Homo sapiens: one gene and its partners. The protein of the gene in region 1 interacts with the protein of each later gene in a pairwise test. Each region holds a gene or a part of one and is shown on either strand. Other genes may lie near its edges.

What was found. Proteins that work in one complex are often made in the same cells at the same time.
Region 2: the proteins of FKBP7 (region 1) and MAN2B2 interact in binary tests that used the Homo sapiens proteins (3 or more experiments, as listed by UniProt).
Region 3: the proteins of FKBP7 (region 1) and FAM3C interact in binary tests that used the Homo sapiens proteins (3 or more experiments, as listed by UniProt).
Region 4: the proteins of FKBP7 (region 1) and H4C7 interact in binary tests that used the Homo sapiens proteins (3 or more experiments, as listed by UniProt).

The regions. Positions count from the first base shown.
Region 1 is NC_000002.12:178,468,601-178,472,100, forward strand, and holds part of FKBP7 (peptidyl-prolyl cis-trans isomerase FKBP7 isoform a precursor), read right to left. Parts: intron 2,925-3,500; exon of another isoform or gene 2,837-2,924; intron 1,186-2,836; coding exon 1,052-1,185; intron 1-1,051. UniProt on the Homo sapiens protein: PPIases accelerate the folding of proteins during protein synthesis.
Region 2 is NC_000004.12:6,595,689-6,599,188, forward strand, and holds part of MAN2B2 (epididymis-specific alpha-mannosidase isoform 1 precursor), read left to right. Parts: intron 1-1,424; coding exon 1,425-1,615; intron 1,616-2,509; coding exon 2,510-2,666; intron 2,667-3,500.
Region 3 is NC_000007.14:121,348,378-121,351,308, forward strand, and holds the end of FAM3C (protein FAM3C precursor), read right to left. Parts: intron 2,893-2,931; coding exon 2,766-2,892; intron 2,174-2,765; coding exon 2,084-2,173; 3' UTR 501-2,083; downstream 1-500. UniProt on the Homo sapiens protein: May be involved in retinal laminar formation. Promotes epithelial to mesenchymal transition.
Region 4 is NC_000006.12:26,246,111-26,248,417, forward strand, and holds H4C7 (histone H4-like protein type G), read right to left. Parts: upstream 887-2,307; 5' UTR 868-886; coding exon 571-867; 3' UTR 501-570; downstream 1-500. UniProt on the Homo sapiens protein: Core component of nucleosome. Nucleosomes wrap and compact DNA into chromatin, limiting DNA accessibility to the cellular machineries which require DNA as a template.

The sequences.
Region 1 (3,500 bases):
AACAGAGAAAGACCCTGTCTCTAAGAAAAATTTAAAAAATTGAAATGTAAGAACAGTCATGAAGCCAGATTGCCCAGGTTTTGCCCCTTACTACTGTGTGATTTTTGGCTGATTAACCTGATTATTATTTTCCCCATCTAAAAGCGAAGATGATGACAATAGTGTCTGCCCCATAAACTATCATGAAGATTACATAAGTTCACATACTTATGTGCTTATAAATAGTACCTGGTACTAAAAGTATAAAATAAATGTTATCTATTATTATCTTTTTTTTTTTTTTGGAGGCAAGGTCTCAGTCTATCTTCCAGGCTGGAGTGCAGTGGCATGATCACAGCTCACTGCAGCCCCAACCTCCTGGGCTCAAGCGATCCTCCTACCTCTCAGCCTCCTGAGTAGCTGGGACCACAGGTATGCACCACCATGCCTGGCTAATTTATTAAATCTTTTGTAGAGACGGGGGTCTCCCTGTGTTGCCCAGGCTGGTCTTGAACTCCTGGGCTCAAGCAATCCTCCCACCTCGGCCTCTCAAAGTGTTGAGATTATAGGCATGAGCCACATGCCCAGCCCAATTATCATTATTATTACAAGATCTTTATTACAAGGCTGAGATACAGACGCTAGCTGGCTGAACTTCTGGCTCCTGTTTACCAACTTTCTAGCCCACTCAATTCAGACCCTTGCTAGCTCTTTTCATCATCCTATGAGGCGTGAATTATTTGCCCTGTTGCAAATTCTTACAGTGCTGTCTGAAAAAGAGATATGCTAGTGTAATCTAGAAACTGGAAGAGCACTGTAGAGACAAATAATTCGGGATTTTAATGACTCTCTTGCAGGGAGAAAGGCAATTGAACAGGATGACTCACAAGGTTTATACTGAAAAAGCTTAGAGCTTTTTCTAAGCGCTTAGATTATTTTTTAGTGACCAGCTCTATAAAAGCAGTGATCAGAGCCCATGCTAGCTAGACCTAAAAAGTAATAGTTGTAACACAGATGTATTTAAACTGTGATAAAAAAATTAGACTATACACATGAAATTGGTTTGAATTACCTCGGCTTTAGAGAGCTGCCTGTCATTGTCCATGTCTATTTGTTTAAATGTCTCAATGCTCCGTGGTCCTTTGGTCACAGCATAAAGTTCAATCTCAAAAATCAATGTAGCATCCGGTGGAATCTTGCCTTCTGCTAAGGGTATAAATTTTAACAGTTTAACTTATGTAAAGATATAGTTCAAATATCTATTCATGAACTGCCATAACCATATTATATTATTTCATGTTGATAAGAATTGCTATCTGAATACTCACAATTTTTAATTTTTTCTCATCTTTTATAACTTTTTTCGGCTTTTCAATAGTTTTCTTTTTTGTTTTTTTTTCTCTTTTTTTTATAAATACTTTTTTAGGAATATTTTTTCCATATGTTTCCAAACCAAGTCAATTCAAAGGACCTATGGGACCACTATTTCTTGATTAATTTAAGTAAAAATCATAAACTTTTTATTAATGCATGGATATGACCCTCTATATCTGTGGGTTCTGCATCTGTGGATTCAACCAGTCTCGGCTTGAAAATATTCATACAAAAAAAGGATAGTTGTGTCTGTAATAAACATGTACAGACTTTTGTCTTGTCATTATTCCCTAACCAATACAATATAACAATCTTTTACATAACATTTACATTGTATTAGATATTATAAGTAATCTAGAGATAATTTAAAGTACACCGGAAGATGTCCAGAGGTTATGTGCAAATGTGATGCCATTTTGTATCAGGGGCTTGAGCTTCTGTGGATTTTGGAATCCATGAGAAGGTCTTGGAACCAATCTCTAACAGGTACTGAGAGACAACTGTACTCTCCTATCATCAACACAGAAGAGAGGTGGCACAGAGAAGAAATGCATGGGCAGAAAAATTGCAAAGCATAGATGAGTCATCTTTTAGAAAGTGATTTTGTGTAGTTATTTGGAAGCATAAATAAAACATAAGTATTAATATATTTGTCTTTCAAATTTTTTATAGACATTAAAAAATAAGTGCAATGATAGAAAAATCCAGTAACAGGCTGGGCACAGTGGCTCACACGTGTAATTCTAGCACTCTGGGAGACCGAGACAGGAGGATCACTTGAGCCCAGGAGTTTGAGACCAAACTGGGCAACATAGTGAGACCCTGTCTCTATTAAAAAAAAAAAGAATTAAAATAAAAATTCAGTAACAATTTTACAAAGAAATTGTATACATTTTTAAGCAATAAGTTGAATACCTATTTTTATTTTTATTTATTTTTTTTGAGACGGCGTCTCACTCTGTTTCCCAGGCTGGAGTGCAGTGGTGCAATCTCCGCTTACTGCAGCCTCTGCCTCTTGGGTTCAAGCCATTCTCCTACCTCAGCCTCCTGAGTACCTGGGATTACAGGTGCACACCAGGCATTGCATTATTAGTAGAGATGGGGTTTCACTATGTTGGCCAGGCTAGTCTTGAACTCCTGACCTCAGGTGATCCGCTTGCCTTGGCCTCCCTAAGTGCTAGGATTACAGATGTGAGCCACTGTGCCTGGCCAGAATTGCTCTCTTTAATTAAGTTAACCTATTAGCTGATGTCACAGATTTTTTTTTTTTTTTTAGACAAGAATCTTCCTCTGTCACCCAGGCTGGAGTGCAATGGCACGATCTCGGCTCACTGTAACCTCTGCCTCCCAGGTTCAAGCAATTCTCCTGCCTCAGCCTCCCGAGCAGCTGGGATTACAGGTGCCTGCCACCAATCCTGGCTAATTTTTTATACTTTATTAATAGAGATGGGGTTTCACCATGTTGGCCAGGCTGGTCTCAAACTCCTGACCTCAAAGGATCCACCCACCTTGGCCTCCCAAAGTGCTGGGATTACAGGCGTGAGTCACCGTGCCAGGCCATGATGTCACAGGTGATTTTAATAAGTGATGGGCTATTTCAGATAAATATGTCATAAAAGTGACTTGCAAAAATGACTTGCTAAGGGGCAGCGGGTAGCTTGTGTCATCAGTATATTGCCAGTGTCCTACACAGTGCCTAATCTACTACAGGCAGTCCAATATTTGCCGAATGAATGACCCATATCATTTATTTTTAAAATGTTTGTCCTTGGAAGGAAACAGCAATTTCTTTAATAAAAAAGTGAAGCATTCTAGCTAAAGTCTTTATATAGTCTGAAGAGAAAAGAGTTTGTGAGTTATAGCCAAAAGGAGTAGCAGATTAGTAGTTTTCAAAGAGAAAACATAGAAAGATCTACCCATGCATCATATGACTAACATAAAAGTCCTAACCTAATGCACCACATATTACCTGACTTTAGAGTAGAAGAGCTAGAGATTGAGTCAATGATTGTTTTATAAAACCCATTCCTATTTTTTCCAGTTATCTCCTTATGACAGAATTATTGTCTCCTGACAATAATTCAAGGCAAACTCAAAACACAAATTCAAATTTCTTTTCTTTTCGTTTTTTTTTTTTTTTGAGACAG
Region 2 (3,500 bases), on another chromosome or scaffold:
AGTCACAATGGCAATTAAATTTTAACATGGGTTTTGGAGGGGCATTCAAACCATAACATTTCCCTTCCAAAGAGATGCCACAGATGAACTCCAGCTGCAGGGCTCATTCTGGCCTGGGCACTGCCTTGACTCACCCATGACCTGGCTTAGTCCTGCCTCTCTGGGCCCCAGCCTCTGGGTCTGCATGGTGACCAGTGGGGCTGCATAGTCCCCGGCTCCTGCTGTTGACACCACATTGGAGGCAGGTGGGGCTGCACACACGGGTTGGGGGATGTCCGTGGATGTGGGTGTGGTTATAGTCAAGGCAGGAGGAGATATGTTAATGTGGGCATGGCTAATGGTGAGGTGGGTGGGGTAGTGACTGTGGGTGTGGCCACATCTAGCAGGTAGGGATATACCCGAGTCAAGTTGGGTGTGGCTCTGTCCAGGTGGGCGTGGTGTCCAGGTGGGCGTGGTATCCAGGTGGGCGTGGTATCCAGGCGGGTGTGGGTGGGCGTGGCGTCCAGGTGGGCGTGGTATCCAGGCGGGCATGGTATCGTGATGACCACTGAGGATGTGGAGCCCCTGCCAGACTGAATGGAATCGGGCCTCACCACCCACTCTCAACATGGCTGCAAAGCTGTGGAGGACCCCATCTGACCCACAGGGTGTGGCCTGTCCCCTGGGCCATGTGACCACCCCTCCCAGTCTGGTTCAGGACCAGTGGGGGAAGAACAGGGAATCAAGGCAAATCTGGGCACATCCCAGACGCCGAGGAGCAGGAAAGCAAAAGCAATAGGAAGCTCCCTTCTGAGACAGACAGCCACTCCCTGGGAGGGTTCAGCCCTCCTGCCTCCTGCATGGGCCCTGGGCATCCTCATCCTCTCTGTCTTGCATCAGGACACTGGCTCCCTGGGGTCTCTGAGCCCTTGCTGCCTCCTACCATCCATCCTCCCTGGACGCCCAGAGAATCCCTGCTGAAACGCATGCCTGTCCTGGCCTCCCCATGCCCACGTCACACATGAAGGCCTCTGTGCAGTCTAGGCCCTTCTCAGTGGGGTCCTGCCCACCTGGCTCCTCCTCTTCCCCTCTGGGTCTCCCAGGCCCTTTGCTCACACAGCTGTTCTGTGTTTCCTAGGCACCCTGGGCTTGCCTCCGATCAGGATCCTTCAGCACCCCACCCCACCTGCCCCAGTGCAGCCTGTCTCTCCCACCCTGCCCAAGGCCCATCCAGGGTTTTCTGGGCAGTTCCTAGTCTGGCTATGGGAGGAGGCCTGAGTTGGGAGCCGTAAGCCCTGGGCTCGCTGCCTGCCCGGCCTGCCTCCTTGGGTGACCCTGGCAGAGGCTGCCTCTGCAGCCCCAGCTTCTCAGCTCTTCCAGGGCTGGAGCTTAGCAGACTTCTGGGTCATGCCGTCTCAAGCTCACCATCTTCCCTTGTCTCCCAGAACCATTCCAGGCCTGGACGGGCTTCTACACGTCCCGCAGCTCACTGAAGGGGCTGGCCCGGCGAGCCAGCGCCTTGTTGTATGCCGGGGAGTCCATGTTCACACGCTACCTGTGGCCGGCCCCCCGTGGGCATCTGGACCCCACCTGGGCCCTGCAGCAGCTCCAGCAGCTTCGCTGGGCCGTCTCCGAGGTAACACCACATTTAGCCACAGTGGCAGGATTGGAACCTCCCATGCTGCGCACCTCCCCTCCCTTGTCCTAGCCAATCCTTCCAGCCCTGGGGCACTAGAGGCCCCACTTTACAGAGGGGAAACTGAGGTTCCCTTTGGTTACAAGGCCAGTGCATGGTGAACCCAGGCCAAGGCTGAGACCACAGCCTGATCCATCCAGCTGGTGGCCTCATTAAGCTTTGTAGCAGTTTAGCAAAAGGGATAAAGGACAAGGTGGAGTGGCATTTGTGTCCGACAGCCCTGCCTGCATCCATATCTCGGCTCAGCTGTGTGATGTCAGGCACATGATTCCCACACCCACCCAAGACCTAATTCCCTCCTGTACAATGAGAACAACGAGCTTGCCCAGGAGGACGGTGGGGCAATTGGATGTGCTGGTGTGCACAGCCTGCTTGGTGCAGTGGCTGCTGAATAGCCAGTTCATGAGTTTCCGTCTCCACCCATCCCCTACTGTACTGATGGGAAAACAGACCCAAGACAGCCTGTAACTTGTCCTCAGTCACCTATCCAAAAAAGGGTCACACCAGCCATGACACTGTAACAGTTCCCCAAAAGGAGCTGCTGGCAGAACATGTCATTATGTTGTGGGAGAAATGAGGTGACTTCAGGGTCCTTCAGAGCAGGGGGTCCAGAGATGGGGGACAATGAGTTCCCACAAGGGCAGGAAAAGTTGGGCGAGCTCCTCAGCTTCTCTTGGCCTCAGTTCCTCCTTCTGTAAAATGGCGGGGACTGCCCCCTTCTCCACTGGCACCTGGCAAGCCAGAATGAGAGCCAGCGCCTAGTAGGTGCCTTGTAGGTGCTTTGCAGAGTCAGGTCCTGATCCTGTTCTTCCTCCCCTCTGGGGGTTGCTGCAGGTCCAGCACCATGATGCCATCACTGGGACTGAGTCCCCCAAGGTGAGAGACATGTACGCAACGCACCTGGCCTCGGGGATGCTGGGCATGCGCAAGCTGATGGCCTCCATCGTCCTAGATGAGCTCCAGCCCCAGGCACCCATGGCGGCCAGCTCCGGTGAGCAGGGCCCTGCAGGGAGGCTGTGGCCCCTTTATGAAGGGAGAGCCTGAGGAGGTCAGGGGAGGGGCTCAACGACCCCAGCTTCAGACTCTGAGTCCACATCACCCATATCGCCCTTCCCCATGGTGAGAGCTCGGACAGGTGGCTTCAGTCCTCCCAGCCTCTGTTTGCTCATCCGTGCAATGAGGAAGGGTTGCTGATGTTACAAGAAGAGCCAGAAATAGCAGCTAACATGTTTTGAGCATTTACTAAGCTCAAAATACCCTTCATGCAGTATTGAATTTAATGCCTCACAAAATCTGTACAAAATAGGAATGGTTACTGTCCTCATTTTACAGCCGAGGAAACGGACTCAAGTTATATGCTAGCCCAGGGCCACTCGGGTAGGAAGGAGCAGAGCAGGGATTGAACCTGAACACGGTGCTGCCCAGCCTTGGCAGAGAGTACGCCGGTGTCCTCAGGGGCCCGGTCCCTTCCTGGCTCCTGGCACTCCCTCCCGAACTCCACTTGGCTGACATCACAGCAGGGCAGCCGTGGGACCAGCCTCTTTGACTGTGAGTTTTCCCACGTGTAGAGTGACTGATCACATGCCAGTGTGCCTGGGACTGAGGGGTTTCCAAACTGGGAAGATCCTGGACAAATGAAGACAGGTTGGCGGCCCTCCGCCCGCATGAGACTTTTGTGTGCATAGGCCGCCAGGTCCCACCCACAGCCTGCACCTGGTCATCTTGCACTTCCTTCTTGTTTTTTGTTTTTTGAGACAGGGTCTCGCTGTGTCACCTAGGCTGGAGTGCAGTGGTGCCAGTCATAGGTCACTGCTGCCTTAGACTC
Region 3 (2,931 bases), on another chromosome or scaffold:
AAGCCCATAAGCACCATTTCAAATACTATGTCAATGTTAATTTGATTTTAATAAAGAACATTCTTAATATTAAATGAGCACTGTTTCATGTCTAAAACCGATTTTAAAGAGGTATCTGAAAATGTAGTATAAAGTTATTGCTTTCAAAGTTAAGTTGGCACAATCTATACAAGATTGAACTGAGACAAAAGGAAACCACACCAGTTAACATAACCAATCTTTGTCTTCTTTTAACATTTTATATATCTGGAAAAGCTATCCTTTTACAGTCTTAATAAAAGGGCTTTTTCCGCCATCTAGATACTTAGCTTCTTACATGTTAAGACACATCTAGGATATTACTATTTTTAACCACAGCAACAATTTTTTTTCCAAGTTAGGCAGTATAATAAATGCTTGAAAAACCTTGTGTGAGTTTTTGTGAAGTTCTGTAGGTATATTACTTTGCCAGATAATACAAAAAAAAAAAAAAATTCACAAAGCAAAACCAAGAGTATTTATTTTCATTATTTTAAAAAACTGCAACATTTATTTCACAATCCCTGGAACTGTAAAATAACTATTCTTTTAATTTACAGAATTGAGGGAAGTATTTTAAATGTCAAAATACACATGCTGAATGTGATTTAGCATATAAGCACCAAAAATCCCAAAAGTATACAAAGATTGTTTAAACATATAAGGTGCATTTATTCATGAATTAATTACATTCAGTTTGAAGGAAGAAACAGTACTCCAAAGTTCATCAATATTTAAGAAATTATCCGAATAGCTTCCAACTTGGTTTACAGCTAAATAACAGATACTGCTTTTAGGTTTTTTTATACAATGCATCTAAACTTTAGGTTCGAAATTTAAGTGCTGCCTTACACTGTGAATGGCAGTTTGATCACTAAATTTATGTTCCAGTTTGAGATACTTCATACACAACATATATTTAATGCCCTGAAAACTTCTGCTTAAAAACTGAGTTATTTAGTGAACATCTGAAGGTAACAAAAAAAGATAGATCTTCTATATTTTTATGTAGAATTGGGTATAAAGTCATTTGGGGTCAAACACAATTATTTTTTAAATGTTATCAGTCCGCCCAGTAATAAGAACTTTTGTAAATATGCCACTATAGCTTCGGGCAATAATTGCTATTATGAAGTTAGATAAACACAGGATTAATTTCTTGGTTTACAAATCAAAATTATTGTGATATTAAAGCATGCCTCCTTCCAAACCACTTGGTCAATGCTGATAACAATTAAGAAAAACGTATGCTAGTATTGCTCTAAATATACTGACTTAGCTGTCCTGAATGACCTAATTAGGTTGGGGAGGGGACTTGGCCTGGTTCTCCAGTTCTGTGAAGCTGCCACCTCCAGCCTCACTCTAAATAGCTTATACAAAATCAAGTTATTCCCATAGCTAACACAAATCCAGCAAGCTGTGGTCCTAAATGCCATCTACATTTATATATTTACTTTTTTACTGTGTACATTAAGAATTTTGTTGTGCTTTTCACATATCCGATGTATGTTTTCATATTAAACATTCCTCAGTTTCTTGGGAAGGAAAGAAAAAGATCATGAAAAGAGGTACATCAGGAGAGTCGGACTGTAAAGTAACATTACACACACAACTAGCCAAATCTCTTTTTAATTTAAAAGATAATGTCATCACAACGCAACATATAGAAACATAAAAGAAAATAAAGTATCCACCCTAAAATCCCTATTATTCCATGATATTTTCATAGCAACTAGTATATATATCAATATATTTTTCACAAACCATTCAGTTACACATTGTGTATGCTTTTAGAATTTAAAATATGTATTACCATAGCAGTCTAAACATTGTACTTTTAGGGAAATGTGCGGAGACATGGTTCAGTGATTTGATCATTGTGATGATTATTTACAATGCTATCTATTTACGTTAGCAATAAATAATCCTGATATCAAAAGAGACAATACTCATGCACACACCAAGATGGCTGCATGCTCTTAAAATATTTACACATAGCTCTGCCATTTATAGCTCTCCCATTAAGAGTGAAAGTGCGCTTTCTTCAATTCTCTCCACATTTCCATTAGTCTTGCTTCTGGGGGATGCATCCTTCCATTTCTACAACTTCAGGCCATCCTTCATATTTGTTTGTATCCTTATTGTTCTTTATGTGCTATTGGAACACAGTAATAATATACAGTTTAAAAAACCGTTGTAAACTGCTGATTTGCCGTAACATTTTACACACTTCTCATTTCAGTAATACTCATGTCAACAATAAGTTCATTTAAATTACTGGTCAAGATATTAAATGAGTGACCCTCAGGCTGTATCACATACATGGCAGACCTTCAAATAACAGCTGAAAGAATACATTGCACGTGCTTTTAAAGGATTATTTGCTACTCAAAAACTAACATTTACATTCTACTAAGTTCTAAAATATTTCCAAACTTCACTGATTCTAAAATCCAAAGCTCAATTAAAATCCTTAATAACTAAAGCTTCCGAAAAGGCTTAAGATAGGTAATCCTATTCCAATGCATTGTCCTGTAGGAAAAAATATTCCCATGCAGAATTTTCAAGTTTTGAAATTTAAAAGTACGATAGTTATTTCAAATAACTGATTACCAAGAATTTATGACAAATATATGATCATATTTACTATCCGCTTTATCTAATTTTCAAATAGCTGGGATGGGAAAATGTACCGTAAGGTTTCACAGAATTTGTTTTTGTTAATTCTGAGAGTCTATGACACTAACCTGTTCAAAAGGGCTTTTTGTCTTAATGCCCTTCCCACCACAGAAGACCCAGTTGTCTCTAAAACCAAGATTAGTAATAGATGTGCTCCCCAAATCAGCAATGAGCCGCCGTGCCTCATCATTGAGTCTTGAAGAGGGAGAGAAAGAATACAACAATAAACAGAGG
Region 4 (2,307 bases), on another chromosome or scaffold:
ACAGGTAAACTTCTTTTAGTGCTGCTAAATTAGATCATTGAACTAGCAAGGGGGCCAGTCCCTCCACTGCAGACACATTTGTCAGAACGGCACCTGGCAAGTTTGTGCTAATTATTGTGTATTCTCTGGTTATTGAAATTGCTTATTAAGCAGAATATAAAAGTCGGGTTATCTTGGCACTAAAACTACAATTTTAATTACGGAGGGTAATCCTAACAGTAAGGAGAAAAACACACTACCATAACCACATTTTGAGAGCTTTTAAGTGACAATGTAGCCGTTGATGTCCTCAGCCAGCCCACCAGATTTCTAATCTCTGAACACACGATTAACTTACCACCTGTATTCCATGTTGTATGTCAGCCTTGGCGTAAATTTATACTTTACAGCATTATACACCTAACAGCTTTTGGGCACCTACAGCAATAAAACACACAATATTGCTGAGTGCGTTAGTTAAGTTTCCACAATGTCAAACGTGAGCCCTTCGGAAGAAAACGTACGCGGCCCTGAAAAGGGCCATTAACGATATTGCAAGGAAAGGCCTGGCCTCACTTAACCGCCAAAGCCTTACAGGGTTCTTCCCTGGCGTTTGAGCACGTAGACCACGGCCATGGCGGTGACCGTCTTGCGCTTGGCGTGCTCCGTGTTGGTCACGGCGTACCAGATCACATTTTCCAGGAACACCTTGAACACCCGGCGGGTCTCCTCATAAATGAGGCCCAAGATGCGCTTGACACCGCCATGCCGGGCCAAGCGCCGGATAGTGCACTTGGTAATGCCCTGAATATTATCGCTCAGTACCTTGCGATGGCACTTGGCACCGCCTTTCCCAAGGCCTTTTCCGGCCTTGCCCCGAACAGACATGATAAACAAGTCAGAACTATCTCTAAACAAAACGATTACTCGCTTTCCGCAGCCTTTTATATAACGGTAGAGTAGACCTTTTTGAAAACTGAAAGACCAGGAAAGGCGGGAAAACGTATTCAGTCCCCGCTCATCTACTTCTAGTAATAACAAGACATAAGAAATTCTCTTGTAGTAGGGAGATTTGCTGGCATTTAGAGAATAAGGATCTCTAAACGAAAGTGTCAAACATGTACCTAGAGGAAAGTATCTCGATTTTTGATGTCTGTATGTGTTTAAAGATTTACTCCTGGCCGGGCGCGGTGGCTCACGCCTGTAATCCCAGCACTTTTGGAGGCCGAGGCGGGCGGATCACGAGCTCAGGAGATCGAGACCATCCTGGCTAACACGGTGAAACCCTGTCTCTAATAAAAATACAAAAAATTAGCAGGGCGAGGTGGCGGGCGCCTGTAGTCCCAGCTATGCAGGAGGCTGAGGCAGAAGAATGGCATGAACCCCGTGGGGTGGAGCCTGCAGTGAGCCGAGATCACGTCACTGCACTCTAGCCTGGGCAAGGGCGAAGCCCGTCTCAAAAAAGAAAAAAAAAAGATTTACTCCTTCCCTGTATATTAGAGCATTTACCATGCTGAAGTTGAAACAAGCCCAAATTCCAAGACATAAAAGAATTCCTAATCATATTGCCAAGCCGCCCAGCTAAAGAGAAGTAGCCTGGTTTTTGGTTTCGAATCTGTGAGTGACTGCTCTCTCACCGATATTAGACATGTTAATCTGAGTTTCAATGGCCCTATCTGTAAAAAGGGTAAATACTTGTTAATAATTGAGTTACTTTAAGCAAAACACTGGCATATAGTTAGTAAATGATTTTTTTTTAAAATACGGAGTTTCGCTCTTGTTGCCCAGGCTGGAGTGCAATGGCGCAATCTCTGCCCACTGCAACCTCCACCTTCTGGGTTCAAGCTATTCTCCTACCTCGGCCTCCCAAGTAGCTGGAATTACAGGTATGTGCCACCACTCCCGGCTCATTTTTGTATTTTAGTAGAGACCAGATTTCACGTTGGCCAGGCTGGTCTCCAACTCCTGCCCTCAGGTGATCCGCCCGCCTTGGCCTCCCAAAGTGCTGGGATTACAGGCGTGAGCCACCTCACCGGCCAGTTGGTAAACGAATTCTTATTGCCACAGCCTTTTTTTACAGACAAAATAATAATGCAGAGGTAAAGCACACCGAAGGATTTTAAAACATTGCCTTTGCAACACCAATACATTCAGTGTGCTTTCACTTATATTAAGCACTATACAATTAAGCAATGAAGAATTGCCCAGAAAAAAGATAATGTAAATTGCCAGAGGCTCCATGCCCTGTTCTCATGTGGAGGACAGAAGGTACAGGGGGTGACTGTCTTCTGGGGTTGATACAACAGGAAACTCAGGGAAAGCTGTCAT